Regions from separate parts of the Homo sapiens genome. Here regions 2, 3, 4, 5, 6 and 7 are each reported to be linked to region 1. The links are microRNA targets in miRTarBase. Many come from high-throughput screens and were not tested one by one. Region 1 holds a microRNA gene; each other region holds the end of a gene's coding sequence.

Region 1 (4,057 bases):
TAGAAGGTTGAAGGACTGACACCGCTGGTTCCAGAACAGGCACAGAAGGCTCCAGCGCAGAAACAACTGGCACAGGAATGGTAACATAGTCTGGCTCAGCCACAACAGGAGGCTCCGGGACAGTCACAACCGAAGGCTCCAGGACAGTTACAGTCGAAGACTCCAGGACAGTCACAGTCGAAGACTCCAGGACGGTCACAGCCGAAGACTCCAGGACAGCCATAGCTGAAGACTCTGGGGCAGCCATGGCTGGCGGCTCCAGAATGCTCTCTGCCAGCACTGGAGTAGTTACTGCTGGAACCAACAAGGATGTAGATACTTCTGAGGCAACATGTCCTGAGGCTCTCATGGAATCAAATGTTTCTGCTGTCTCTGACATAACAGGAGGCTCTGATGCTAACACAGTTGGTTCAGCTGACATGGCGGGAGTTTCAGATACCATACAAGTCACTGGTCTCTCTGGAACAACTTCATGTTCTTCTGCTACTACTGCAGACTCTACAGGTGTTAACGTAATTGAAGATTCTGGCTCTGGTGGTGGTTCTGGAACAGTCACAGCAGCCTCTGATACTAAAACTGAGGGATCTGATGCTGACACTGAATAATCAGTAGGCACTGCTGAAGGCTCCGAAATCTCACTTTGACTCACAGGAGGCTCAGGCTGCGATACAGACTCTTCAGATGGTGATGATGGCACCTCTGTAGGCCAAGTATTTTCAGCTGTTAATGCTGACTGCTCAGTGGGCAATGCTGGACCCTCTGGTGGTTCCTCAGGAGGCAATGGTGGTGTCATTGGTGGCTCCTCAGGTGGCAACGGTGGCATTGTTGGGGGCTCTTCAGGAGGCAAAGGTGGCACCATATATGCCTCTGTATATGTGTCAGTGTAAGAATCGGTGTAAGAATCAGCAGCCATAGACATCATTGAACGATCAGCAGTATAAGATGACATCATAGATCGGTCAGCTGCAGAGTACGATGACATCATAGACCGGTCAGCAGCAGAGTATGACGACATCATAGACCGGTCAGCACCCATGGACATCATAGATCGATCAGCCATTGGGGACATCATGGAGCGTTCATAAGCTGACATCATGGAGCGTTCATAAGCTGACATCATAGAGCGCTCAGCCATAGGGGACATCATAGAGCGCTCGTAGGCTGACATCATAGAGCGCTCGTAGGCTGACATCATAGAGCGTTCAGCCATAGGGGACATCATAGACCGCTCATAAGACATCATAGAGCGTTCGTAAGATGACATCATGGAACGTTCTGCAGCATAGGACATCATCATAGAACGTCTAGATGCTAACATCAGGGGTCTAGGTGCTAACCTATATGGCCTGGGTGCTATTCTATAGGACCTGGGTGCTATCCTGTAGGGTCTAGGTGACATCCTATAGGGATCAGGAGTTAGTCTGTAGGGATCATGGCCTAATCTATAAGGGTCTTGTCCTAACCTGTAAGCATCATGACCTAATCTATAGGGGTCATGGCCCAACCTATAGGGATCCTGAGCTAACCTGTAAGGATCCTGAGCTAACCTATAGGGATCAGGAGATTTTGAACCCAACATAGCAGAATCTTGGGTACTAGACGCTAACATCTGGGCATCCATGGTACCAGACGCTAACATCTGAGCATCCATGGTGCCAGAAGCTAACATTTGAGAGTCCATAGTGCCAGATGCTAACATCTGGGAATCCATTGAGCTAGTTGCTAACATCTGGGAGTCCATGGTGCTGGTTGCTAACATCTGAGAATCCATGGTGCTGGTTGCTAACATCTGGGAGTCCATGGAGCTGGTTGCTAACATCTGGGAGTCCATGGAGCTGGTTGCTAACATCTGGGAGTCCATGGAGCTGGTTGCTAACATCTGGGAGTCCATGGAACTGGTTGCTAACATCTGGGAGTCCATAGTGCTAGTTGCTAACATCTGGGAGTCCATGGAGCTAGTTGCTAACATCTGGGAGTCCATGGAGCTAGTTGCTAACATCTGGGAGTCCATGGTGCTAGACGCTAACATCTGGGAGTCCATGGTGTTGGATGCTAGCATCTGGGAGTCCATGGTGTTGGACGCTAGCATTTGGGAGTCCATGGTGTTGGATGCTAATATATGGGTCTCCATGGTGTTAGAAGCTAATATATGGGATTCTGGGGCCATCAAGGGATCCACTCCTACTGTTACAGAAGTCTCCCCCACTAATGTAGTAGGCAGCTCCTGTGCTACCGTATTATAGGATTCCAGCGCTGTCGTCGAGGGCACCTCCAGGGACTGCGACACGGTCATCGTTGACAGCTCCGATGTTGTCACCACAGACTGAACAGAGATCTCCAGCGCCACAGTTGCCACAGGCTGCCCAGGCAACTCTGGCGCCCCAGGCTGCCCTGGCAACTCCAGCACCCCTGTTGCCAGAGGCTGCCCCAAAAGCTCCAGTGCTCCAGCTGCCCCAGACTGCCCCGAGAACTCCAGTGCCCCAGCTGCCATGAGCGGCCCAGGCAACTCTAGTGCCCCAGTTGCCACAGGCTGCCCCGACAACTCCAGTGCCCTAGTTGCCGAAGGCAGCCCTGGCAACTCTGGCACCCCAGTCACCGAAGGCTGCCCCGGCAACTCCAGCGCTGTCGTTGCCACTGGCTGTCCTGGCAACTCCAGCACCATCGTTGCCTCAGGCTGCCCCAGCAACCCTGTTGCCGTTGTCACCTCAGGATGCCCAGGATGTTCCACCGTTGTCATCCCCACAGGCTGCTCCAACTCTGTCGTCGTCACAGGTTGTTCGGTCAACTCCATTGCTACTGTTACCGCAGGCTGCTCTGGCAACTCTACTGCTGCTGTCACCAAAGGCAGCCCTGGCAACTCCTGTGCCATCACAGGTGGCTCTGGTACCTCCTGTGGTGGCTCCAACCCCATGGATGGTGCTGGAAGCCCTGGCAATTCCTGCGACAACTGTGGCACTGGTGTCACAGAGGGCCCTGGCAACTCAGGCACTGCTGTCGCAGGGGGCCCTGGCAACTCAGGCACTGGGGTAGAAAGGGGCCCTGGCAACTCTGGCACCGGGGTAGCAGAGGGCCCAGGTAACTCCAGCACTGGAGTCACAGGGGGCCCCTGCAACTCCGGCATGGAGGTCGCAGGTGGCCCCGGCAACTCCATCGCTGAGGCCACCGACGACTCCTGCAGCTCCAACGCTGTGGTCTTAGGCAGCTCCGGCAACTCCTGCGGTCTTGTCATGGATGAATCTGCAATCTCCGATGGTACGTCTACAGGCTGCTCTGGCAATCTTAGCGCTTCAATTGCAGATGACTCTGGAAAATCCATTGTTGTTGATGTGCTTGGCTCAGGGTACACCTCAGTAGGTGTCTCTGATGATACCACAAGGGTTTCTGAAGGCTCTAACACTTTTGCTACTGGGGGCTCTACCAACATGATCTTTGATGGCTCTGGAGATGTGCTCTCCACAGATTTCAGCACAGACTTCATCTGATACTCCACTGACATTGTTACAACTGGCTCAGATGACTTCAACACCAGTGTTGTAGTAGGCACTGGTGCTGCTGCAAAGGAATCCAGAATCTTTGTCATGGATGGTTCTGGCATTACTGCCACAGACTGCTCTGACTGCTCTGAGATTACTGATGTAGATACAACTGACAGTTCTGCAGTTTTTGTAGCTGGCTTCAGAGTTTCTAAGATGTGTGGCTCTGATACCTCCATTGATACTACAGGAGGTTCTAGCACAACTGCAGGGGATTCATTGGTCTCAGATGGGCCAAATGCTCTTGTAGGAAGCTCCAGCGCCACAGCTGAAGGTTCAGAATCAAACTTTAAAAAGGAATCAGATTCTAAATCTATGTTCCCATCATCATGAGATTTCGTCTTTGACTCAGATTCTTCTGGCTGTCTTTTATATTTTTTTTCCTTTTCTTTCTTCTTTTTCTTCTTTTTGTTTTTGTGCTTTTTATGCTTCTTTGACTTTTTAGTGGGAATTTCATCAGTAGGATCTGTTTGTACAGATACGCATCTACTTTTTCTGGAGCCCTCTTTCAAGTCTAAAAGTAA
Region 2 (4,068 bases), not on the chromosome of region 1:
ATCTGTGTTATTCTCTCCATCATTCTGAAATTGCTGGAGAAAAAATTGGCTTTTAATTTATACACTCTCGTGTTCAAAATGATTATCATCTCACAAATCATACAGTGTGCATTAGACTGCTTCTCAAACTTCAGTGTGCATCAGATTGACTGGGATCTTGTTAGAATGCAGATTCTGCAGATCTAGGGTGGGGCCAGCTTTTCTGCATTTTTAACAAGCTCCAGATGATAATGATGCTTCTGGCCCAGGACCATATCTTGAGTAGGAAGGAATTAGGATACTATATTTGGACAGTAAACATTCTTCCTGCAGTGAGACTGAGGCTGGTAGTCAAGGCCATGGCTGGGAAATAACTATTCTTAAATTGGGATGCATCATCCAAGTAGAACAGCATCACATGTTATACCATCTAGAGCTACTGGGTTAAGTTTGCAAATACTTCGTATAGATCACAGTTATCTTTATCCCAGTAAAGTTCTACTCCAGTTTTTCACTTCCAAATCATTTAAGTAGTTTTAAAGTACCATTTAACAAGTATTTACTCTAGATTGTGGAGCACGCTTGAAATATGAGTGTACGCTTCTGCACGCCCCTGTGTTTCCAGCTCTCTATTGGAGGCATCATCATTCTGAAGGATACCAGTGAAGACATTGAGGAGCTGGTGGAACCTGTGGCAGCACATGGCCCAAAAATCGAGGAGGAGGAACAAGAGCCAGAACCCCCAGAACCATTTGAGTATATTGATGATTAAGGGCCAGAGGTGCGTGTGCAACAAAATTATGAAGGGAAACTTCTTTGTCAATACTTCACAAATGTTTTTTGCAAGGACATCATCTCACGTTTTTCCTTCCTTTTGTGTTTAATCCTTATTTACCTAAACAGTATTAAAACTTCCCCGTTTCAACCTTTTTCTGCATATATAACCACAAATTCCTTTTTCTTTCCTCTTTGACTCGTACTCTACTCACGTTATTCAAAGTGGCTGGTCTGCAAACTATTTTTATAGGTCCATAAGGAGATAGGAAGCTTACTCCAGAATCTGTCTGCTCAACGCTTCTTTCATCAAGAAAGTCTTCCCCAAAACATCAGCTGAACTGCAGTTTGCTTAGTGATAGAGCTGATTTACATTCTGATGTAAGCTTCTTGTTGTGGATCAGTTATAGTTGTGGACTGGCACTGGCCCATAGGTGACACTTTTGAGTAGCACAAATATAGGCTTCTCACTGATTTTTCTCTCTCCCCATCTCCTTCGACAGTATTTTTGGCATAGAAGCCTTAACATTCATTCATTCTATGATGGTGCTATTGAATATCTACTGTGTATAAGACATAGTGCTTATAGGGACTTTGAGGTCAGTTAGACTAACCACAAGGCTGTGTCCATTGACAAAGATCATTTACTATATCAGTGTCTTAACAGTGTTGAAAGGGGTCTTTAGATGGGAAAGTTTGGAGTAATCTAATTTCATGAAATTGTCGTTCTTCATTTCCCCATTTTCTTTTGAGTGTTCATCACATATTTGAAGACATTGTGAGACATAATCAAGGTTTCCTAATTCCACCCAAGCACAAACACGTTTTCAGACAATTTTTTTTTTTTTTTTTTTTTTTGAGACGGAGTTTCGCTCTTGTTGCTCTTGGCTGGAGTGCAATGGCGCAAACTTGGCTCACCGCAACCTCCGCCTCCTGGGTTCAAGCGATTCTCCTGCCTCAGCCTTTCGAGTAGCTGGGATTACAGGCATGCGCCACCACACCCGGCTGATTTTGTATTTTTAGTAGTGACAGGGTTTCTCCATGTTGGTCAGGCCGGTCTCAAGTTCTGGACCTCAGCTGATCCGCGAACCTCGGCCTCCCAAAGTGCTGGGATTACAGGTGTGAGCCACCACGCCCGGCCAATTCATTCTACTCTTTAAAAAAAATAAGGACAGTATCATTTGTTATATTTAAAGGTCTGGTTGCAAATCTAGCATGCTGTGTGTTAGATACTGACTAGCAATTTAGGAAAGATTTGCAGAAATCTCAGATAAATATTAAGGTAGAAACCTGCCATTAGTAGGAAAATATATTTATACCTCAGGAAGACTATTAGTTTGGGCCTTAGAGAAAGGCAGATTTATACTAACCTTCCTATTTTCTAAACTTACTTTTGAAAATTATCTTTCAGCCTTGATAGTTTCCTAAGCTTTACCCAACTTGCACAGTACAGCGTAGGCTATCATGATCACTCAGTCTGTCTGAGAATTGAGGTGACTCACGTTAGCTCCCATCAAGCCTTTGGCAATACCTCATGGAAAACCCTTGATTACAGCTTTCAAGGCAGTTAATTACAAAATGACTTAGAGGTTTATAGCTGGAAACTGGAATCTTGTTAGTTTTCAAAGGGGTAAAATATTCAGTCCATTAGGAGTTTGGAAACTATAATCTGTCGTGGCACAAACTGGTATATTAGGACTGCAGAGGCAGGGTTGGGGCCTAGTTTTAGATTTCAACAGTTAATAGTAAAGAGGAAAAAAAAGAATGTCTTGAAATTAAGAATGACCCTAGCTACTACTGTTCTTTCTTCCCTTTCCCAGGATCTCACTTGCTTATCTGAAGAAGATTGTCCAGGCTCATATTGGGAATGCTTATGAGGAAATTCATGCCGAGACCTGCTATTCAATGCATGTATCGTTGCCTCTGCACTGACCTGAAGAACCCTGTCTCCAAGTCTTTGGTTGAAGAGAAGATATATGACTGTTGAGTGTGCTCTTTCACAGAACTTGGTTTTCAAATAAATATAAGATCTCCAGATGGACAAGACATTTGTTTTTCAGCCTGGGTTTTTAATAAATGTATCTAATCCTCCCCACACCATGAAATGCCTAAATCCCAAGAGCCAGAGTCTTGATTTGCTAGGATGAGTATGCACGACTTTCATATTGATGAAAAAGTCAAACTATTCTTAAATTATAGACCATGAAAATAATGGAAGGGAAAAAAATCAAACCTTGCTCATCACCCCCAAGAATTCTCTACAGTTTTGTTGTGGTTGTGGGTTGTTGTTTAATATGGGGTCTAATCAGCCAGGGCAACATGGTGAGACCCCCATCTCTACAAAAAAATTGAAAAATTAGCTGGGTAGGCCAGGCAGGGTGGCTCACGCCTATAATCCCAGCACTTTGGAAGGCCAAGGTGGGCAGATTGCTTGAGCCAAGGAGTTTGAGACCAGCCTGGGCAACATGGCAAAAACTCACCTCTACAAAAAAAAAAAAAAAATTAGACATGCACAGTGGCACGTGCCTGTAGTCCTAGCTACTCAGGAGGCTGAGGTGGGAGGATCACCTGAGCTTGGAGGTCGAGGCTGCAGTGAGGGTTGATTGTGCCAGTGTACTCCAGCCTGGGTGACAGAGTTAGACAGTTTCTGAAAAAAAAAAAATTAGCCAGGCAGGGTGGTATGTACCTGTAGTCACAGCTATTCAGGAGGCTGAGGCAGGAAGATCAATTGAGCCCAGGAGGTTGAGGCTGCAGTGAGCTGTGTGTGCACCACTGCACAACAGCCTAGGCAACAGGGCAAGACCCTGTCTGGAAAAAAAAAAAAAAAAAGAGCCTCACTCTGTCGCTTAGGCTTAGGCTGGTCTCAAACTCCTGGGCTCAAGCAATCCTCCCACTTTAGCCGCCTGAACTACAATTTTTTAATCGAATAGAGGGTGTCATCACTTACTGAAGTCCCTTTCATAATCCAAGGGAATTGTGTGTTTAGGCAGCTCAGAAGCTTTTTTGTTAAACCTTTGCTTATTGTTTTTTGCTTTTGATCCTGTTAATAGATAAAATTTATTTAGTTTCCTTTAGCCACAGGATCTGATAACGTACCTTTATTCCTTTCTCATTTTCCAATCTTTTTTTCATGTTTTTTAAAAATTAAAGTATAATTTAAAAGCAATAAAATGCAGACATTTGAGGTATATACAGGATAATGAATTTTGACAAGTACAATTTTTGTTTCTAGATTATCAAGCCTTTCTTGGATGCTAGGCTTTTAGAATAAGCAGTCAGGGTTGATATTCTGACCACTACACCATCTCCTCATGT
Region 3 (4,067 bases), not on the chromosome of region 1:
TTACATATAATTTATTTATTCATTTATTTTTTTTTAATTTTTGAGATGGAGTCTCACTCTGTCACCCAGGCTGGAGTGCAATGGCATGATCTCAGCTCACTGCAACCTCTGCCTTCCAGGTTCAAGCGATTCTCCTGTCTCAGCCTCCCAAGTAGCTGGGACTACAGGTGCGTGCCACCACACCTGGCTAATTTTTGTATTTTAGTAGAGACGGGGTTTCACTATGTTGGCCAGGCTGGTCTCAAACTCCTGACCTTGTGATCTGCCCGCCTTGGCCTCCCAAAATGCTGGGATTACAGGTGTGAGCCACTGCGTCCAGCAGAATTTCATATAATTTAAAACAAAATTTGTTGCATTGAACTGAATGTTGAATTTTTCTTTGTAAAACATCTCCGTGACTAAATTTTCACTGTGGTCTGCAAATTAATTTATTTGCTTAATAGAAAAATAATTTTCAGCACTGGGCATGGTGGTTCACACCTGTAATCCCAGCACTTTGGAAGGCTGAGCCTGGGAGTTTTAGACCAGCCTGGGCAACACAGCCAGACCATGTATCTACAAACTTTTTTTTTTTTTTTTTTAATTAGCCAGGTGTGATGGCACACATCTATAGTCCCAGCTACTTGGGAGGCTGAGACAGGAGGATCACTGGAGCCCAGGAATTCGAGGCTGCAGTCAGCTATGATTGTAACACTGCACTCCAACCTGGGCAAGAGTGAGACCCTGTCTCTGACCAAAAAACAAACACACAAACAAAATAAAAAACCTAACAAAATTAATTAGAAATGTGATGAGATATTGGATGTCCATTAGTGATAAAGCCGTTGCAACCATTATACTGAATGCTCTTTCAGGAGTTCTGAAAGCAAACAACTGTTAAATAAACAGAAAAATAACACCTTTAAAATGTTTTAGATATGTTGCTTTTATTCAAAAGAATAAAATGCTTGACAAACTCTTTAATCACAAGGTTTGAACCAAACCACCAGTCTTCTACAACAACTCTGTGAGGTAGGTATCTGCATAGCCACAAGGGATCCACATAGTCCTTTCTTCCCTTGTACCTCTCAAACACTGAGAATTGTAGTAGTTGAAACCACTGTTCTAGTGGGCAGTTAGAACAGTTGTTTTCCCCGTCTTGTTCCCCACAGAGCTGCCCAAGTTATTATCTGCTCCTGGGGTTGGACCATCTGTTTTATGACAGTTATGATATTGTTGTTTAAAAAAAATCCAAATTGTTACTTTGATTTATATGATCTAACTCTGAATCACGGAAGTATTACTATGATGTTCAAAACTCTGATTGACTCTACTTGCTTTAAAAACTCTCAGATCCCTTCTGCATTTATCATCAGAGATCGGTAAAGATGACAACAAGCAGGTCTAAAGTTCTGAGATGTTAGCACATACCCTTTTCACAATTTAGGAAGCTTTAAGATCATTTAGTATTTTTTTATGTTACAAAATTTGGTACAATACACCTCTTTCAGGAAAGTCTTAGTAGTAACTCCAAATATTATAATTATTGTAACCAGAATTGTGACACTTGGAGCAGAATGCATGCACACAAAATAAAATCCTGTCAAAAAATGACATCACCATTCCCCCACACCAAATGTGTAATTGGTAGGAAATGCATTTCCAGTCTGGTACATGGCAGTGTGACAAACTCCTACTCACTCGCTTTTCAAGTTGGTGACTGCAGCTGAAATGTTTTTCTGTGATGTATGCCACCCTTTTACCTATTTGATTTGGAAGTGTAGAATTCGGATTCATGTCATCTCCACAGACCTTTCCTCTTAGGAGTGCCTAAGCTGTCTTACTCTGATGGAGGTATAATGTAGCACGAAAGACTTCCAAAGAACCAGTTTCTCTCTTGCTGTTCCTCTTAACAACTTTCACGTCTATCTAAACATTCTATGCAGGAGTCCTACTAAGAAATTTTGGTGTAATGCCACTTTGATCAGTTATTTGTTGTATGACTTCATTCAAAAACACTTTCATCAATAGCATGGGGATTGTATCTATGAAAGGGAAGTTGGTGTCCTGCGTTCCTCACAAAATTATCCAAAGGATAAAATGAAAAGTATGTGAGAAACCTGCTTTAATTATAATGTGCTATGTTTAAGCATTATTGTTTTTCTCTATGACAAGCAACAGCTCTGTCCTAGGTCCAAATTAGAAAAACACATATTGATATTTCATTCAGAATCTCATTAATTGGTAGCTGATCTGATTAGCTAGAGAGAATGTGACAGATTTTCTCCTTATCTCCCAGTCTGCATATAGTGAAGCTCACTAATAAATTAATGGATGATATTAATAGCAGTGATCTCAGATGACAATGCTAACACTGACTCCTGGGCATCCCCTCACATCCTGCTGTCATACATTCACTAATGAGCAACGCCAGCTGAAGTGAGTAAGATCTCCCAGTACCATGTGGTACTGAGTCTTCTCAGATACATTCACTTGTTTGGCTCAAGACATGAATCTGAGCTGTGTGCTGCCATCCTGAGACAGTATTATAAAAATTTCTGACAACAGAAAACTAACAAAATTTGTCCAATCTGTTGCTATAGCTAACCAGTAATTTCTTTTGTCAAATGTAAATACCGTTCCCAGTACCTTCCTATTGGCTTGATGCTCAAAGACACGAAGATTCACCTTCCTCAGAAATGCATCAGGCTACTCTGTGTTTGCAGCATCGCCCAGGTTCCTAAAACAATCTTCCCTTTACAAATTACTTTTATATCTACTACGAAAGGATGAGCTCTTGTTTAAATGTCTAACTGTGAACATCAAGTGTGCTGACTGGAGATAAATGTTTTTCATCTTTTTTTTTTTTTTTTTTGAGAGGGAGTCTCACTCTGTTGCCCAGGCTGGAGTGCAGTGGCGCAATCCACCTCCTGGGTTTACGCCATTCTTCTGCCTCAGCCTCCCGAGTAGCTGGGACTACAGGCGCCTGCCACCACGCCTGGCTAATTTTTTGTATTTTTAGTAGAGACGGGGTTTCACCATGTTAGCCAGGATGGTCCTGATCTCCTGACCTTGTGATCTACCCGCCTCAGCCTCCCAAAGTGCTAGGATTACAGGCGTGAGCCACCCCGCCCGGCCATGTTTTTCATCTTAATTCTTCTATTGATTAAAATGTGTTCTGTAAACTAGAATATGATATCGAAGTATGAAGTTCAAGTTTCTTCTTTCAGTTTCAGCTGATAGCAAATAATTAATTATACCAGAATGAAAAGGCAGAACTGCTCCAAATGCACAAAACTTAGCTAGCACTAAAAGAAATACTGAATTTTCCCCAATAGTATATAATATTTTATTGGAACAAAAATATTTAGATGAGTTTCACAGCTATATATTATCATATAGGTACCTGCTGAGAAGGATAAGATGGATAAACTGACATTTAACAATATTTTACTATACATCTAATTAATCTAAGTAATTCTGGGGAAAAGAAAAATATATAAAAGCATCCCTTTTTATATAATTCCATATTTTTTCCAGACAACATAGAATCAAGATACAACTGTAGATCATTATAATTCTAAACTTAATATTAGAACTTCAAACATGAAAATTCCAGTTATACCTAGGTATTTGTCAAATGATAATCAAATGTTTGTCTTATAGTGGTTTTATATTTGTGAGATAATACTCCATTGCTTCATTGCTTTATACTGCCATGGGTCCTTCTGTTTGATGTTCTACATTAGCTCAGATATCCTAGTAAACTCAGTTTTGTTTTCTTTTTCATCTAGTTAGCCTTTGGGTTATCACTTCTCGATACATAATAGAGATGTAGATAAGCAATAAAAAGATGACAAAGAAATCATCTAGAAAGCCTAGAATTCCAAACAAGGCTTCAGGTACAAAATCTAGAGGTGATATAAGATAGAAAAAAGCTCCCATTAAACAAAGTATTATCCTGATGCGAAACATCCAGAAAAGGCCCCCGACTGAAAACATTTCCCTGAATGCATGCCTCAGTAAAGTGGGTAGATCCATAATTCTCTCCATAATCTGGTAGAGGGAAAAACAAGTATTATGATTCA
Region 4 (4,068 bases), not on the chromosome of region 1:
CTCCATGTGACCCTGAGCAAGTTAATAACCTTCCTGGACCGCAGTTTCCTTCTCTGTACAATGGAGATGAGCACCTATCTCAGAAGGTGGTTATGTGGCTAAGGAAATATGTAGAGCCCCGCACACTGCCTGGGATGTGACAGGGCCTCAGTGAATGGTGACCCTTTTCCCTGCTGGAAGTAGATGAGAAGTGACTTTCCATTTGGTGACAGAGCAGAGGGTGCTGGCAGAGCCAGGGCAAGGGCGTGCAGGGCCAGGCTGCACGGCAGAGACGTTCTGCCCATGGCAGGAAGGAGGCGGCCTGGTGATCTGCCCTTGAACCTGCTCCCACACCCCATCCCCCAGAGTGCCGAAGCTGCAGCCGAGGCCACCAAGAATATGGAAGCTGGAGCCGGAAGAGCCAGTTATATCAGCTCAGCACGGCTGGAGCAGCCAGACCCCGGGGCGGTGGCAGCTGCTGCCATCCTCCGGGCCATCTTGGAGGTCTTGCAGAGCTAGGGTGTGTGACTGCCTCCCTTGGCCTCAGCTCCTCTCACTGCTGTGCTGAGGTGGCCTTTGTCACTTCCTTCTGCCTTCCAACCCTCACCTTCCCCCGGCCTGGCCCCATTGGCCCACCCTCTAAGTTGAGCAGGAAATCCTCCACCAAGCTTCCAGAACTACAGACAGCACCCAGAGTGAGCTGGAGTGGGTCCCCATGCCTCTCCAGCATGCCCTTTCCCTTTGCAGGAGGGTGGAGTCCCTGGGTCATGCCCTCCCCTGCCAGCTCTGGGCTTCAGAGATAAGGCATTTTCCTTGTGCAGCCTTTACCTGGCAATCCTAATTTGGTTTTAAGACTCCCTGTGAAATGCTTTCCGCACCTTAACCCCAGTGAGCGTGAAAAAGAAAGTTAATAAACTATAATACATGGAAGCAAGAAAGACACTGCCTCCTCTGAGGGACCTTTTCCCAAGCATGTAAACAAGGGGGCCCACAGCCCTGGCTGCAGGCATCATGACCCATCTTCTACCAGGCAGATCTTTATTACCTGAGCCCCTAAGGCAGTGTCTCCTCAGCTGGGCTGCTTCCACTGAGACCCCCGACCCATCCCCTTTCCAGTACACACACCTGATGCATGTAAGAATGGTAGAGGGGCTTTTCTTAGCATTGAATTAATAATTCAGTGGCTCCTCGGGAGTCGAATGGGCATTTGGGACACCAGAAGGAAAAGAAATCATCATAGTCTAAGGTTCAGTTGTAGATCAAAAAATGCAGCCAGGCCGGGCACGGTGGCTCACACCTGCAATCCCAGCACTTTGGGAGGCCAAGGCAGGCGGATCCCTTACACTCAGGAGTTCAAGACCAGTCTGGGCAACATGGTAAAACCCTGTCTCTACCAAAAAATACAAAATTAGCCAGGCATAGTAGTGTGTGCCTATAGTCCTAACTTGGGAGGCTGAGTTGGGAGGATGGCTTGGGCCCAGGAGGTCGAGGCTGCGGTGAGCCATAAGCATGCCACTATACTCCAGCCTGGGCAACAAAGCGAGACCCTGTCTCAAAAAAAAAAAAAAAAAAAAAAGAAACTGCAGCCAAGCCAGCCCCTAGGTCTCTTTCTAGAGCGATCACTGATGGCACCAGGGTGAGCAGGGGCACTGTATGCATGTGGAGACAAACAGCACATGCCTGGCACACATGTAGGGTAGGGAGTGGTTAAAGGCACTGGCTGTCGACTCATACACATGATCTGAAATCTGATTCTGCTTTAACCCGGCTACAGGAGCTAAGGCCTATTTTTTAGCCCTTTGGGATCTGTAAAATCAGAATGGTACCCACCTCATGGGGACATGAAAGGATTCAAATGAATTGATGAAGATGGGCCATAAAGCCCAGCACAGTCCAAGTGCTCACTCACTGAGAGTTACGGTTATCACAGGGGTTGGGCCCCCAGCCCCTCCCAGGTCATCTGCTCTACCACTAGCTGGTAGGAAAGAGCCTCCTGCCCTCCCAACCCCCGTCACCTACTTGGCCCAAATTTGGCTGCAGGCTCCCCGAGTGCCTGGGCTTCTCTACCCAGGGTCCTGTCTGTCGGCTGCACCATACGTCCCTGACCACAAGGCATCCACGTGCACAGGAGTATGCGCCCAGCAGCTGGGAAGGAGGCTGACCTCAGACGGTGGCCTGTGGATCCCAGCTCTGTCATTTCCTGGCTGGGTGACCTCAACCTAGTCACCCTTTTTGAGTCTTGTTTTCTCAGATTATGAAATAGGAAAAATTTCCTTCCTCGTGAGATAAGCACGTGCCATTAGCTATTAAGGACACGCACATAAATGAGCTGCATGTGAATCCACACATGCCATTCCATGAAGACAGAGGATCATGTGGATCTTTGGTGCCTTCCGGTTGGCCCCTCCCTAGGTCTGTGAGGGTCAGACCTGTCCTGAGGCTTTTACAAATTGGCCCAGAACTCATTTAACCACAGCATCATTTCATTAGAGGGCTGTTATTAGAGACTGAATGTTTGTGTCCCCCCCAAATTCCTGTGTTGAAAGGCTCACCCCCACTATGGTAGTGTTAGGACGTGGGGCCTTTGGGAGGTGATGGGGTTATGAGGGTGGAGCCCCAGAGAGCTCTCACGCCCTTTCCACCATGTGAGGTTATGGTGAGAAGATGGTCTCTGAGGAAGCTGGCCCTTGCCACACACCACATTTGCCAGCGCCTTCATCTTGGATGTCTATAGCCTCCAGAACTGTGAGAAATAAACACTTGTTGTTTAAGCCACCCAGGCTATTATATTTTTGTTATAGCAGCCTGAACAAAGACAGCTTTGATTCTTAACATATTTAATGAAACTCGAGCTTCATAAACCAGTGAAATGCCTACCCCTATGGAGATGGGGAGCTGGTCATGGGACCCAGGTGCCTGGAGGACATCCCAGTGGCTTTGAAGGCTCCAGCCAGTCAAGACGGTCAATATTAGCCCTTCTGCCAACATCTGGCAATGTGAGGCTGGGGTGGACGTTGGCCTGATGTTGCCAGGAGTAGGATGCTGATGCTGCCAGAGAGTAGGTGGGCTCCAAACCCCAGGCTTCTCACTTGCTTACTAAGCACAGCAGTCTGAAGCTTGGGACCTGGCAGTGCGTCTTTGGAGAAGGCAAAAAAGCCACAGCAGCAACACTTAGGAGCAAGACCCTTCCCGCTCTCCACCCTATTTCCTCCCCTGAAGAAGAGCAACAGCTCAAGCTCTAGCATGGCACAGAACGCTAGGTTGGGCCAGGCAAGCAGCCATGGTGGGGCCAGGTGAAGCAATGTGGGTCTCAGCAAGGAACCCCTCTGAAGGTGGCAGTGGCTCCCAGGGCTGCTGCACACTGGACACCACAACTTTGGCATCAGCTGCATGGTGAGCTGCAGAGTGGTCAGAGGGGCTGGGGCCCTGCCAAGAGAGCAAGGCCAGACCTGCCCAGCGGGAGGCAGGAAGGCCCTGATCCAGCAAGGAGAAGTAGAGGAAGTCCACAGCCACCTCTGTTACTCATCGCTACTGGGACATCTGGGGACAGGCTCTGTTCTTGGGAGAGCAGGTCACCAGGATTTGTAGGGCTGCCTGCCGGTGACAGACACGTAAGTCACAGGGAAAGGCCGGGATCCAGGCCTCAGCTGTAGCAGCAGCTGGAAGAGGTGGAGCCGCACGGTCACAATACATGCAGACACAGAGCAGCAATACGAAACAGAACAGCTCAGAGCGGTCAGCTCCTCAGCAGAAGCTGCGTGGGCCGCCACTCCCCCTTTCTGCAATCACCCCATGATGTCTCCACCCCACCTCACATCCAGATGGGGCTGGATGGCAGAGCAGATGAAGCCTGCTCTGTGGCGGGGCAGCCTAACTGAAATGCACACCTTTATGGGGGAAGTGGACGGACACCTCACCTCCCTCATGTTTCACACCGTGGACTGCACTTGAGTCCCAGCTCTTCACCACATCCCTAGGAGTCTTAAGAGGAAATCAGTCTGATTTCTTCAGACAGGAGCAGCAAGAGCGGCCAGAGCGAGGAGGACCTCGTGTGAATGGAGGACCTGAGAGGCTGACGCCAAGGAGTGC
Region 5 (4,063 bases), not on the chromosome of region 1:
TTAGTTTAACAGAGGGAAAATTGTTAATAAAGTAGATGTAATATGTAAACACATACATCATTTCCTTGTTCTGGATCTATCAATGATTTCATACTTTGACTATATCTAAATTATCTGCTTTTCCCAGCCTTCAAAGTGGTCTTTAATTCACCCCTGCTTTCCATGGGTTAAATTTCCTACAATGCTGAGATATTTATATTGGTTTCCTCCTGTCCTACGAACTTCGTACTGATTTCTGCCACAATAAATTTGATTAGATGAAAAAAAAAAAAGACTTTTTTTTTTTTTAAGATAGGGTTTCACTTCTGTTGCCCAGGCTGGAGTGCAGTGGCACAATCTTGGCTCACTGCAACCTTGGCCTCCTCAACTCAAGAGATTCTTGTGCCTCAGCCTCCCGAGTAACTGGGACTACTGGTGCGCCACTGTGCCCGGCTAATTTTTGCATTTTTCTGTAGAGATGAGATCTCACCACGTTGCCCAAGCTGGTATGGTACTCCTGAGATCAAGTACTCCACCCACCTCAGCCTCCCAAAGTGCTGAGATTACAGGTGTGTCGTCACTGCACCAAGCCAATGAGGCACTCATTTCTGAATAAAGTACAAGCATTAGTAACATCTCCCCTGGTCTCTCCAGATTGGTTATGCTGCCACAACTGAATTCTAAATGGGTTAAGTATTATACAATTACTTAGGCTTCTTTGGTAGGTATCAAATAAAACATCCACCTAAATTCTTAAGAACCTTGTTAAATAGTGGCATTTACAAACTCTCTATACAGATTCTGACAGCACATTTCTATTGGAAGACTATGGAATCACAATGAGGAAGGTAGTACTATATAGATCAGCAGCTGGCTTAATTGGCTTCCTGTAACTTACTTATTAACAAATTAGGTTACAAAATACAAAGTCAACTTAATGAATCATCGTATTTGGCATTGAACTCAAAGCTGAATTGTGTGAATTGTGAGGTGCTTTCCATAATTCAACTTGCTTAATTACCCATATGAATGAATCATTCATACCTCAAGCCTGCTAACACTTTTGGATACCTGATGTTTATGTAATAGTGATGTTCATTTGCTGAGTAAGGCATGAGTAGTTTCCTAGGTAAGCAGAAGCAGTCCTCAAAACAATCATGTGACGCAGTAACAACAGGGCTGTATTTTGAAGGCTCTAGAAACCGAAGACATGTATTTCAAGAGCCAAGTTACTTTTTTTTTTCTTTTACCACTTATCCTCAAGTTCTACAAGTTACTTACACTGCATCAATTCAAATACATTTGGTTATTAGATGTCTATTTTTTAAAGATGGACAAGATAAAATTGTGTAAATTTACAAGAAGTAATGCAAACTGCTAATAATGCTTATTTAAAGGAGTTATTAAAGCAACAGCTTACTACCAACCCTACGCTTCTGAAAAATGTGCACAGGTGGGAAAAGATATGGGCATAGCTCTTAGCATATTTTAACAACTGAAAATGTGGCAGGGAAAAAGTCTTTATTCTGAGAGTACAACCATCTTACTTTTGGGGTATTAAAATTACCTTTTATGAGATAATTCATTTTCAATGTTATTTGACAAAATTCAAAGTTGGTCATTCATTTTAGTCTCCTCATTTTTAGTAAATTTGCCTCCTGTAAAATCTAAGTTATGGGAACCACTAGAACATGTGTGAAAACAAGTTGCTGTGAGATGCAGTGATAGATTTTACAAAAAGAAGAGCATTTCATGAACACAGATCAGGATATCCAAAATTTTGGTGAGGTGGATTTTTTCCAAAGTCTGGTGACCAACTGTGGAAAAATAATTGGTTAATCTGACAGTGAGGCCCCTTAACAGTGTTGAAGAAAATGTATCCGAAAAAGCACCCAGAGTCAAAGAAGTGAGAGCAATGCTGTATTTATCCCCCACTGACATGTGAGGAAAGAACAATTTTGGACATACACCTTGTAAAACTTCTCAAAAACCAGACTACATTTCTAACTCTAAAATACATGCTGCTGGTCATGAAGATGTTACGATCATATAATTGAACCTACTGACATTACATGTAATAAATTAAAAACCCAAGTACCATGCTTAGTGTAGTGTCTGGTACATACAAGTGCCCAATAACAATTAGTTTTATTTCTAGAAGGATTACCTCTGTCTGCCTCTTGTACATTCTTATAAAAAGAAAGCAAAGTGAACTGAATAAACTGTATCTTAAATAGACTAAAGAAAAGCTTTTGTATTTGTCTTTTCTCAACTAAGCAGTTTCCAGAGTGCCTAGCAAGGTCTCAGAAACGCACTCAGTGAAGGGAGTTAAATGGTAACTCTTTTACAACAGAAAGGATTCCCTACAGAGCCCAGCAGAGGCGGAGCACTAGGTTGCCCAGCCTGGCCTTGAACTCCTGGGCTCTTGTACTGCAGCCATCCTCCCACCTCAATCTTCCCAGCAGTTGGGACTACAGGCCTGTGCCATGGCACCTGGCTAAGGATAGCTATTATGAGAGTAGTAATGTAAGATGAAACTAAAAAGATTCATAATAGTAGGATTAAAAAGCACAAAAATTTTAAAGATTCTCCAGTACGTTTATTTCACAAACTTTTTTGTACAGTTGACCCTTACACACGGGTTTGAACTGGGTGGGTACAATTACGCGCATACTTTTTTCAATCAAATGCAGGTGAGGTCACACAGATCAGCATTTGTGCATGGGATGTGAAACTCATGTGTACGGAGGGTCAACTGGAGGGCCAACTTTTCTACATATGGGTTCTGCAAGACTTTCTGTGGGACTTGAGTATGGGCAGATTTTGGTATATGTGTGGCCCTGGAACCAGTCCCTAGCGTATACAAGGGATGACTGTATTTTAATGGTTTATAGTGTTAAAAAGAGAAAAATATCCACATAAACACAATTTTGAACACTGAACTATTTTAATATGAATTAATGTCTTATGTTTATTACCAATTATCTTCAAATTGCAGCAGCCCATGAGTTTGGTTGTAAGTGTTCTTGCCATTCCACCCCAGCTGTCACTGAGTCAGTTTAAAATACACACACACACACACACACACACACACAGACACAAGCCTTTTGTAAAGTAAACAAATCTTTTATACTGTAAATAACTGTTCCTCAATGGAACTTTTTGTATCCAGTTTACTTCTTTTCTAAAGCTGGGATATTCATATTAAATACACAACAATCTCTATAAAGCAAAGAGTCTATCTCTGTGAAAACACAAGTAATTCTTGATGGCAATATTTTTCTTAATTCACCTAACCAAATGCAGTTTGGAAGGCCAAAACGAGAAAAAAACACTTCAGATTATCAAAACCAAAAGAGATATGAAAAAATAACATATTTAACAATGTAGGTGGGAATTTTAAATACAAGATCCTGTTGAAAATATTGATATTCAAAGAAACAAACAGCTTTGGATCCATAGCCACAATTTAGGTTTTCCTAGATTAAAATCAGAAGTGATTTTATTGTTGGAAGATACATTAATTCTTTGAAGTCAGAATAAGAGGCTTGACAATTTAATTTCTAATTAAGTGACTGAATAGACAAAGGATCAAATACAAACAGTAGTGCAGGAAGAAAATAAATTGGAAGAAATAATTGTTCAACCAGTAGTAATAATTAAGACCACCATTTTAAAATTTTCTATACACAAAGAATGAGAAAATATTGTTATTATTATTATACTTCTTTCTTCTTCAGTATTAGTGGACCCACATTATCTCCTGTCAATTCATTGTGTTTATTATGTGAACCATCGCAGGCAGGAAACTAAAAAGAAAAAAGAATTACAAGTGTTATTTTTAAAATATGATTCATTAGGTAGAAACATTTGTGAAATGCTCTCAGAAAGAAAGCATATCACTTGCTAAAAAAAATCAGATCGTTTTCCTGAGTAATAGTTACATTCTACATCCAACTGAACCATATTCAAAATCTAACAATTTAAACAGTTACTTCATTATTTGGTTTAGATTTTAAATAAAAACCTATGAATGAGTCCATATGAGTGATTAAAATAGACAACAGGTTTAAAAGGGAATCGA
Region 6 (4,065 bases), not on the chromosome of region 1:
TTATAATATCAGTGTAGAAAGAGCTAGTGAAATTTTGATATTACTTCCTCCTTGAAATTTTCAATAAAACAAAAAATATCTCCTCCATCTGTACTTACATCCAATTCTCATTCACAATGCTGTAATTATCTTTTTCCTTTGATTAGCTATACTAAAATCAAGTATTAATATTTTTTCACAAAGCCTTAATAAGTCTATTTTATTTTCAAATTCATTAACTCCTTTTAATGATCCTCCCTTCTTTCTTATATTGACTTATTTTTCCCTTAGTTTCTTGAGTTTAATGCTTCTTCATTCTTTTAACAGTTTTATAAGTGATTACTATGTTAAAGAGACAGTATTAAGTCACTGGGAGTAGAGTGGTGAGCAGGAGAAACAAAGTGCTGGCCCTCAATATTTGTTTCCTGAATATATTAACAGGTTACTGATTTTTCACTGAGCACAGGTTTGGCCACATTCACAAATTCTGATCTTACCATTCATTTCTAAATTGTCCTTTATGGTTTCATTTTCTTTTTGATCTAGTGTCATTATATTATTGGAGATTTTAAATTTCCGAAATGCCAAAGTACTACTCTACAGATCGTTTACTAAATTAAAAGAAATATTTAGCTCTACAACAGAGAAACCTGGTGATTACCATATGAAGCAAGTATTTCAGTTACCTATCGCTGTGTGGCAAACTACTCCAAAACTTAGTGGCTTAAAACAGGCCATATTTTAAACGTAAATCTGCAATTTGGGCAGGCTCATGGGGGAAAGCTTTTCTCTGCTCCACTTAGCACCAGCTAGGATAGCCTGAAGGCTAAGGGTTAGAATCATCTGAAGGCTCATACCCTCATACACTTGGTGCTGGATCCCGGCTGTTACCTCAATTACAGCTGTAATCAGGACAGCTTTACTTAGCTTTTCTATGTGATTACTTGGCATCTTCATAGCATGGTGGCTGGGCTTCATCCCAAGTGGGTCAGGCAGAAGCTGTATTGCCTTTTATGACTTAGTCGTGGAAATCACAGTGTTATTCCTGCCATAAACACAGGCCCACCTGGCCAGATTCAAAAGGAAGGACCATGAGCTCTACCTCTTGGGGAGTGTTGGTATCACATTGTAAGATGAACATGCAGAATGGGATATATTGGTGTGGCCATCTTTGGAATGTATGTTCTGCTACACCAAGTGAATGAACTAAGGATACCATAGTGGTATAATGACATTGTATGCCACCTAATGGGTTACAAATTGAAATACAAAATTTCTCCCATTAAGTATTCTTGCCAAAATATTTAATCTGTCCCTAATTGGGTCTCTAATCCCAAATTCCAGTTAATGGGAAATACTGGGGATAAAAAAGCACATTTAAAAATACTTTGGGAAGGCCGGGTGCGGTGGCTCATGCCTGTAATCCCAGCACTTTGGGAGGCTGAGGCGGGCAGATCACCAGGTCAGGAGATCGAGACCGTCCTGGCTAACATGGTGAAACCCCGTCTCTACTAAAAATACAAAAAATTAGCCGGGCATGGTTGAAGGCGCCTGTAGTCCCAGCTACTGGGGAGGCTGAGGCAGAATTGCCTGAACCCGGGAGGCGGAGCTTGCAGTGAGCCAAGATCGCACCACTGCACTCCAGCCTGGGCGACAGAGACTCCATCTCAAAAAAAAAAAAAAAAAAAAAAAAAAAAAGTCAATGTTGCAATAAAGTTGTGGGGGGAAGGGCCATTCTTACTTTAAAAGAGACGAACAATGCACAAATGTAATTCATGAATTTGGTTCCTGAATTTAAAAATAACCTATGAAAAGCATTGTTTACACAAATGAAAAGAATGAACACAACTGAGAATATGAACACAGACTGAATATTACAGATTATGGAATTATTGCTAATCTCCTTAGGTGTGAAGTTACTGGGGGTCAAATCTTTTGGCTTCCCTGGGTTACACTGGAAGAAGAATTATCTTGGGCTACACATAAAATGTGCTAACAATGGCGGATGAGCTTAAAAAAAATCACAAAAAAAATCTCATGTTTTAAGACAGCTTACAAATTTCTGTTGGACTGCATTCAAAGCTGCCCTGGGGCACAGACAGGTTGGACAATTGTTATATAGCAATTAAGTAGGAGGCAGCCTTTATTCTTAGATGTGATGTGTTATAGTATCTGCAATTTATACTCAAATACTACAGCAAAATATGTAAATATTATGTATAAGCAAACCAAATGTGACAACATATTAACAATTGCTGAATCTAGATAGAACATAACTGTTCATTATTCTTTTAAGTTTTCCAAATGGATAGTGGCTGTTTTTAATTTATCATTGTGGGCAGAAAAAGCGACTGACATACCTGCTTTTTGGGTTATAAAAAGAAAAAAGCATTACAGCTATCCCTGAGTCTTCAAAACTTTACTCTCATAATCTTCACACCCATCAAATCTAGAGATTTCTTTCTCACATTAATTTTCAGAGATAGGTTCTGACTTTATAAATGGAAGTTTAATCTATTTTACTGGATATTATCTCCAGTTAATTATTCCAATCTAAATAAGGAGTGAAAGGTAATGGACAGTTTTTACAAATTTCTTACACCCACAGGGCCTTCCTCTCACATGAATGTACTAAATGTATCCCCAATGAAAAAAATAAAGCAATATTTATTGATAAAATGCTGTGTGCCAAATACTCTTTTAAAGGTTTTATCTTTTATTAGCATTTCATCCTCACAAAAATACTATTAGGTGGTACTGTTATTACCATTTTAAAAACCAAGGCACAGGGGCATGTTTTGCCAAACACCACATAGGCAGAGGTGGAATTATGAGAATTATATTATTTATATATATCATAAAGATAGGCCAAGGCTGGTCTTTCCCATGTTCATTACATTAACAGAATCATTTTCCGTTACAGTGCTATATAAAGTGTGGTCCATGTGTTGACACTGGCCCACAAATTGTTTGCTTCTGGTCTCTGCAAAAGTTATAGATACCAAGAGCAAGTATTTAGAAATGTTTGCAGCAATCTGACAGAGTTAACTCAGTTAAATACCATAATAAAAAACTGGGGCTTTTATTTTGTATGTCTGTTTTTTTCTTTTCATTTTTCTGGTAATCTATTTATTTATTTATTTAAGAGACAGAGTCTTGCTCTGTTGCCCAAGCTAGAGTGCAGTGGTGCGATCTCAGCTCACTGCAACCTCTGCCACTTAGGTTCATGCAATTTTCCTGCCTCAGCCTCCTGAGTAGCTGGGATTACAGGCACCCCCCACAATGCCTAGCTAATTTGTGTATTTTAGTAGAGAAGGGGTTTCACCATGTTGGCCAGGCTGGTCTTGAACTCCTGACCTCAGGTGATCTGCTCACCTGGGCCTCCCATAGTGCTGGGATTACAGGTGTGAGCCACTGTGCCTGGCCCGCATTTTATTTATTTATTTAGAGACAGGATCTCACTCTGTCACCAAGCTGGAGTGCAGTGGCACAATCATGGCTCACTAAAGCCATGAGGCAGGGTCTCACTATGTTGCCCAGGCTGGTTTCGAACTCCTGTCTTTCCACAGTGCTGGGATTACAGGTGTGAGCCACTTCACCTGGCCCATTATTATTGCATTTTAGAGAAGCACTGTTCAACAACAGTTTGTAGGGGAAAAGGCCCTTGATGGTTTGGGATGCAGTGCATCAGTATCAATCTTCTAAAGTCTAACAGGGACTGAGTGATGCTATAGTCTTTCGACTCTTTAACATACGAAATAATTTCTGATAAATTGTGAGCATGAAGTAAAAGGGATTCCCACATGTTCCGTAACAAACAGAAAATTTCTTAAATTACAAATTCTCTGCTAAAGGGCATTTTCTAAAGGCCATCGTATTCTCTTTACATTATGCATAGGACTTCCTCACTAATATGATTTCTCTGATGTAAAGTAAGTTGATCACTACGAATAAAGGCTTTTCCACATTCTTTACATTGATAGGGTTTTTCACCAGTATGAATTCTGTGATGTCGAGTAAGTTCTGAATTAACACTGAAGGCTTTCCCACATTCTTTACATTTATAGGGTTTCTCACCCGTGTGAA
Region 7 (4,068 bases), not on the chromosome of region 1:
ACAGCCCGGACCTAGAGGTCTACAATGTCATAAGAAAACAAAGCGAAGCTGACTTAGCTGAGACCCGGCCAGACCTGAAGAATATTTCATTCCGAGTGTGTTCGGGAGAAGCCACTCCCGATGACATGTCTTGTGACTATGACAACATGGCTGTGAACCCATCAGAAAGTGGGTTTGTGACTCTGGTGAGCGTGGAGAGTGGATTTGTGACCAATGACATTTATGAGTTCTCCCCAGACCAAATGGGGAGGAGTAAGGAGTCTGGATGGGTGGAAAATGAAATATATGGTTATTAGGACATATAAAAAACTGAAACTGACAACAATGGAAAAGAAATGATAAGCAAAATCCTCTTATTTTCTATAAGGAAAATACACAGAAGGTCTATGAACAAGCTTAGATCAGGTCCTGTGGATGAGCATGTGGTCCCCACGACCTCCTGTTGGACCCCCACGTTTTGGCTGTATCCTTTATCCCAGCCAGTCATCCAGCTCGACCTTATGAGAAGGTACCTTGCCCAGGTCTGGCACATAGTAGAGTCTCAATAAATGTCACTTGGTTGGTTGTATCTAACTTTTAAGGGACAGAGCTTTACCTGGCAGTGATAAAGATGGGCTGTGGAGCTTGGAAAACCACCTCTGTTTTCCTTGCTCTATACAGCAGCACATATTATCATACAGACAGAAAATCCAGAATCTTTTCAAAGCCCACATATGGTAGCACAGGCTGGCCTGTGCATCGGCAATTCTCATATCTGTTTTTTTCAAAGAATAATAAAATCAAATAAAGAGCAGGAAACAGAGTGTTAGTCTGTGTCTACAGCCCTTCCTCTGCATGTGGCCACAGGGGACCTTTTTTTGTTTCTCCTGACATCCAGACTTGGAAATATCTAACTACTTGCAAAACTAAAAATGAGGCCAGGCGCAGTGGCTGACGCCTGTAATCCCAGAACCTTGGGAGACCAAGATTGGAGGATAGCTTGAGTTCAGGAGTTCCAGACCTTCCTGGGCAAAATAGTGAGACTCTGACTCTACAAAAAATTTAAAAATTAGCAGGGCATGGTGGCATGCGCCTGCAGTCCCAGCTACTCAGGAGGCCGAGGTGGGGGAATTGCTTGAGCCCAGGAGGTTGAGGCTGCAGTGAGCTAGGATCACGCCACTGCTCTCCTGCGTGGGCAACAGAATGAGACCCTGTCTCTAAACAAAAATATTTTTTAAAGAAACTAAAAATGAAATTTGAGTCTCAGCTTCTAGGCTTATGTACTCCCATCCCTGATACTACACGTTGTTCTGTTTGCATGTTTGTTACTGCAGCATCAACATAACATGACTAATAATGATGACAGTTCTACCTTTTGTTGACAGACCTCATTGTTTCAATTGTGTTTGGCCTCAAATTCAGAGAAAAGTTTCTCAGCCCAGCATCAATCATATACACATTGGAGGTCTGAAAGCCATTATTTAAATCACCAGCAATTTCCCTCAATCAGCTTCATAATCTCATATTTTAACCTTTCCTCATATGTCTTATTTTTTAATAGCTCAGCAACTTTGCTTCACATATGGAGCCCCAACCTCTAGAGTTAACTAGTCTGGGTCAAAGCAGTATCGAATGTAGTGGATTGGAATCCCTGCCAAATTATCTGCCCTACTGCAGAACTGAATATACTAGGAAACAAAACTCCCTGTTTTGGGAAGTGTGTTTTGTGGTTACATTTCAAGCAAAAACTGAGCACATGGTCCTGAAGGACTGATTCACTGCTCTAAAATGCCCAAGGTTCCATTCTTGCTTCAGACAGCCTCGCTCTATCATCTGCCCTGTATCCTGCACTGTGCCCCACAACTCTGGCCCTTATTACACTGCAAGCTTCGCTAGTAGGAATCCTATCTGCCGGTCAGCATCATGGGTCCTGCAACCCATGGCAGCACCTTGCAGGGTAGGCAATCAATGTCTATTGAATGGATGAACAATGCATCTTTTCAGACTGATGTCAAATAGTTTGAATATTTCAGCTTAAAAGTTTGTTTTTCACAGTCCCCCTAGGTGGAGGAGGTAACTGAGTCATTGTAATTGGAATGCCTCCCAAGAAGGAAGCATAGTAACAAGTAAACAGATGCTGGTGAATTGTGCTAACAACTTACTTTATGTCACTCATGCTTGAACTGAGGACCCACTGTTAATCTATAAAGGGAGTAAGGTTGTAATCAGAACAGACCCTCAGCATCTTCCCTTCCCTTTTTTCATTAATGTGTTGTCTCTTCTGGGACCTAGAGATCTCTTCTGTGTTTGTACACAGCCAGTCTTACCCTGCATTTTAATTATTCACTTTCTTTTTCCTCCTCAGGTTTACTAGCCTGAGTTTACCCAACTCCATTTCTATCTCTAATAATTGCACTTCACTTATGTAACAAATATTTGCTAAATGTTAAGGGTTTGCTATGTTCCCGTTGAGCTTGAGCTTATTCATTAAGCTAGTATCATATGGAAATTTAGTAAGTTTGTTTCATAATTGCTATGATTTGAATGTTTGCCCCCTTCAAAACTCAGGTTGGCCAGGCATGTTGGCTCATGCCTGTAATCCCAGCACTTTGGGAGGCTGAGGCAGGAGGATTGCTTGAGCCCGGGAGTTCAAGACCAGGCTGGGCAACATAACGAGACCCCGTCTCTACAAAAAATAAGAAAATTAGCTGGGTGTGGTAGTGCATGCCTATAGTCCCAGCTATGCAGGAGCTGAGGTGAAAGGATTACTTGAGCCCAGAGGTCAAGGTTGCAGTGAGCTCTGATCATGCCACTGCACTCCAGCCGGAGTGACAAGTGACATCCTGTTTCAAAAACAAACCAACCAAGAAAAAAAGACAAAAAAAACCTCATGTAGAAACTTATTCCCCAATGTGGCAGTATTGACAGGTGGGGTCTTTAAGAGATGATTGGGTCATGAGGGCTTTGCCCTCATGGATTAATGGGTTTTCACAGGAGTAGGACTTGTGGCTTTATAAGAAGAGGAACAGAGACCTGAGCTAGCACCCTCAGGCCCCTCACCGTGTTACGCCCTGCGCTGCCTCAGGACTCTATAGAGAGTCTCCACCAGCAAAAAGACGCTCCCACATGCAGCCCCTCAACCTTGGACTTCTCGGCCTCCAGAACTATAAGAAATACATTTTGTTTCTTTATAAATTACCCAGTTTTAGGTATTCTGTTACAAGCAATAGGAAATGGACGAAGACAACCATTTAAAACCGTATTTCCCAACCTTTTTTTCCACTGTGACACACATGACAGATAAAATGTATGTATCAGACAACCACTTTGGTCTCTTTACTCGACAAGCATTCCTGTTTGTTTGTTTGTTTGTTTGTTTTTTGAGACGGAGTCTCGCTCTGTTCCCTAGGCTGGAGTGCAGGGTCATGCGATCTTGGCTCACTGCAGCCTCCACCTCCTGTATTTGCAACTTTTCTTAGTTTGAAATTCTTTAAGGAACAGCATCTGCAAACACAGGTACTGGAATGGTTGGTAACATATTACTTGCAGCACACCTTCCATCTAAGCTCAGCACACAGGGGTTTGCCATGATGTTGGAGTTGAGAGCATCTAAAAGCCTCTGATCCAAGATAAAAATAAATCATTAGTAAAGCTGTCAATCAGTACCCAAGCCCCAGGCTCAGGCCCAGGACCCCAAACCCCACCTTTGTCATTTCCTTGCAGGCTACAGGGAGCCATGTGAGCCACCCCACAGAAGTGAATCCGGAGATTCCTTTCCTCCACAGTTTCCCATCCCTCCCCTGTGAGAACGCAAATAGGTTGTGTGATCTAAGGTGACTTCCAGTTCTAAAATTATTCAATATGATTCTTTTTCTAATTTGTTAAGCATGTTATGCCCACATTACTTCTGAGCTTGTAGTAAGACACACCTAATGGTGGATAGCAAACTGAAGACAGAAGTGTCAAATAAGGTCTAGGAAACTGCAAGCCCAGAGATGGAGAAGCAACAAAGCCAATTATTCTGTACAGCCCCTTCCTTCTTTCTTCCAAAGAACAGTAAATGGTAACTAATGGCTAAAGAATCTTAAG

Evidence for each region. The annotated mature microRNA hsa-miR-6501-5p reads AGUUGCCAGGGCUGCCUUUGGU and lies in region 1 at 2,838-2,859, opposite strand. An mRNA with a match to its seed (bases 2 to 7 or 8) in the 3' UTR can be bound and repressed. Matches are read on the target gene's strand: a 7mer-m8 pairs with bases 2 to 8, a 7mer-A1 pairs with bases 2 to 7 and ends in A, and an 8mer does both.
Region 2: the mRNA of PSMD1 is a reported target of hsa-miR-6501-5p. The part of its 3' UTR that is shown has no 7-base or 8-base seed match.
Region 3: the mRNA of RNF170 is a reported target of hsa-miR-6501-5p. Seed matches in the 3' UTR shown: 7mer-A1 at 2,872-2,878.
Region 4: the mRNA of TKFC is a reported target of hsa-miR-6501-5p. Seed matches in the 3' UTR shown: 7mer-A1 at 1,347-1,353 and 7mer-A1 at 1,510-1,516.
Region 5: miRTarBase lists CISD2 as a target of hsa-miR-6501-5p. Seed matches in the 3' UTR shown: 7mer-A1 at 307-313.
Region 6: the mRNA of ZNF546 is a reported target of hsa-miR-6501-5p. Seed matches in the 3' UTR shown: 7mer-A1 at 3,510-3,516 and 7mer-A1 at 3,142-3,148.
Region 7: the mRNA of LAYN is a reported target of hsa-miR-6501-5p. Seed matches in the 3' UTR shown: 7mer-A1 at 1,174-1,180.

The regions. Positions count from the first base shown.
Region 1 is chr21:33,549,466-33,553,522 of GRCh38, reverse strand. MIR6501 (microRNA 6501) reads right to left here and starts at 2,861; the gene lies at 2,795-2,861. It overlaps SON (SON DNA and RNA binding protein), which reads right to left. Exons shown (of 12, transcript NM_138927.4): 3 at 1-4,047.
Region 2 is chr2:231,169,962-231,174,029 of GRCh38, forward strand. PSMD1 (proteasome 26S subunit, non-ATPase 1) reads left to right here. Exons shown (of 25, transcript NM_002807.4): 24 at 605-760; 25 at 2,574-2,866. The coding sequence ends at 751. Among named protein-coding and RNA genes, the nearest start is that of ARMC9, 27 kb to the right of the region's middle.
Region 3 is chr8:42,852,394-42,856,460 of GRCh38, forward strand. RNF170 (ring finger protein 170) reads right to left here. Exons shown (of 7, transcript NM_030954.4): 7 at 908-4,035. The coding sequence ends at 3,766. Among named protein-coding and RNA genes, the nearest start is that of THAP1, 11 kb to the left of the region's middle.
Region 4 is chr11:61,346,006-61,350,073 of GRCh38, forward strand. It overlaps TKFC (triokinase and FMN cyclase), which reads left to right. Exons shown (of 18, transcript NM_015533.4): 18 at 346-3,237. The coding sequence ends at 498. CYB561A3 (cytochrome b561 family member A3) reads right to left here. Exons shown (of 7, transcript NM_153611.6): 7 at 2,800-4,068. Among named protein-coding and RNA genes, the nearest start is that of CYB561A3, 14 kb to the right of the region's middle.
Region 5 is chr4:102,887,066-102,891,128 of GRCh38, reverse strand. It overlaps CISD2 (CDGSH iron sulfur domain 2), which reads right to left. Exons shown (of 3, transcript NM_001008388.5): 3 at 1-3,788. The coding sequence ends at 3,699. It also overlaps a transcript of SLC9B1 not described here. Among named protein-coding and RNA genes, the nearest start is that of CISD2, 20 kb to the right of the region's middle.
Region 6 is chr19:40,015,579-40,019,643 of GRCh38, reverse strand. ZNF546 (zinc finger protein 546) reads right to left here. Exons shown (of 7, transcript NM_178544.5): 7 at 1-4,065. The coding sequence ends at 3,863. Among named protein-coding and RNA genes, the nearest start is that of ZNF546, 21 kb to the right of the region's middle. RefSeq lists an enhancer at 3,857-4,065.
Region 7 is chr11:111,560,163-111,564,230 of GRCh38, forward strand. It overlaps LAYN (layilin), which reads left to right. Exons shown (of 7, transcript NM_178834.5): 7 at 1-1,583. The coding sequence ends at 296. Among named protein-coding and RNA genes, the nearest start is that of LAYN, 21 kb to the left of the region's middle. RefSeq lists a silencer at 1,842-2,136.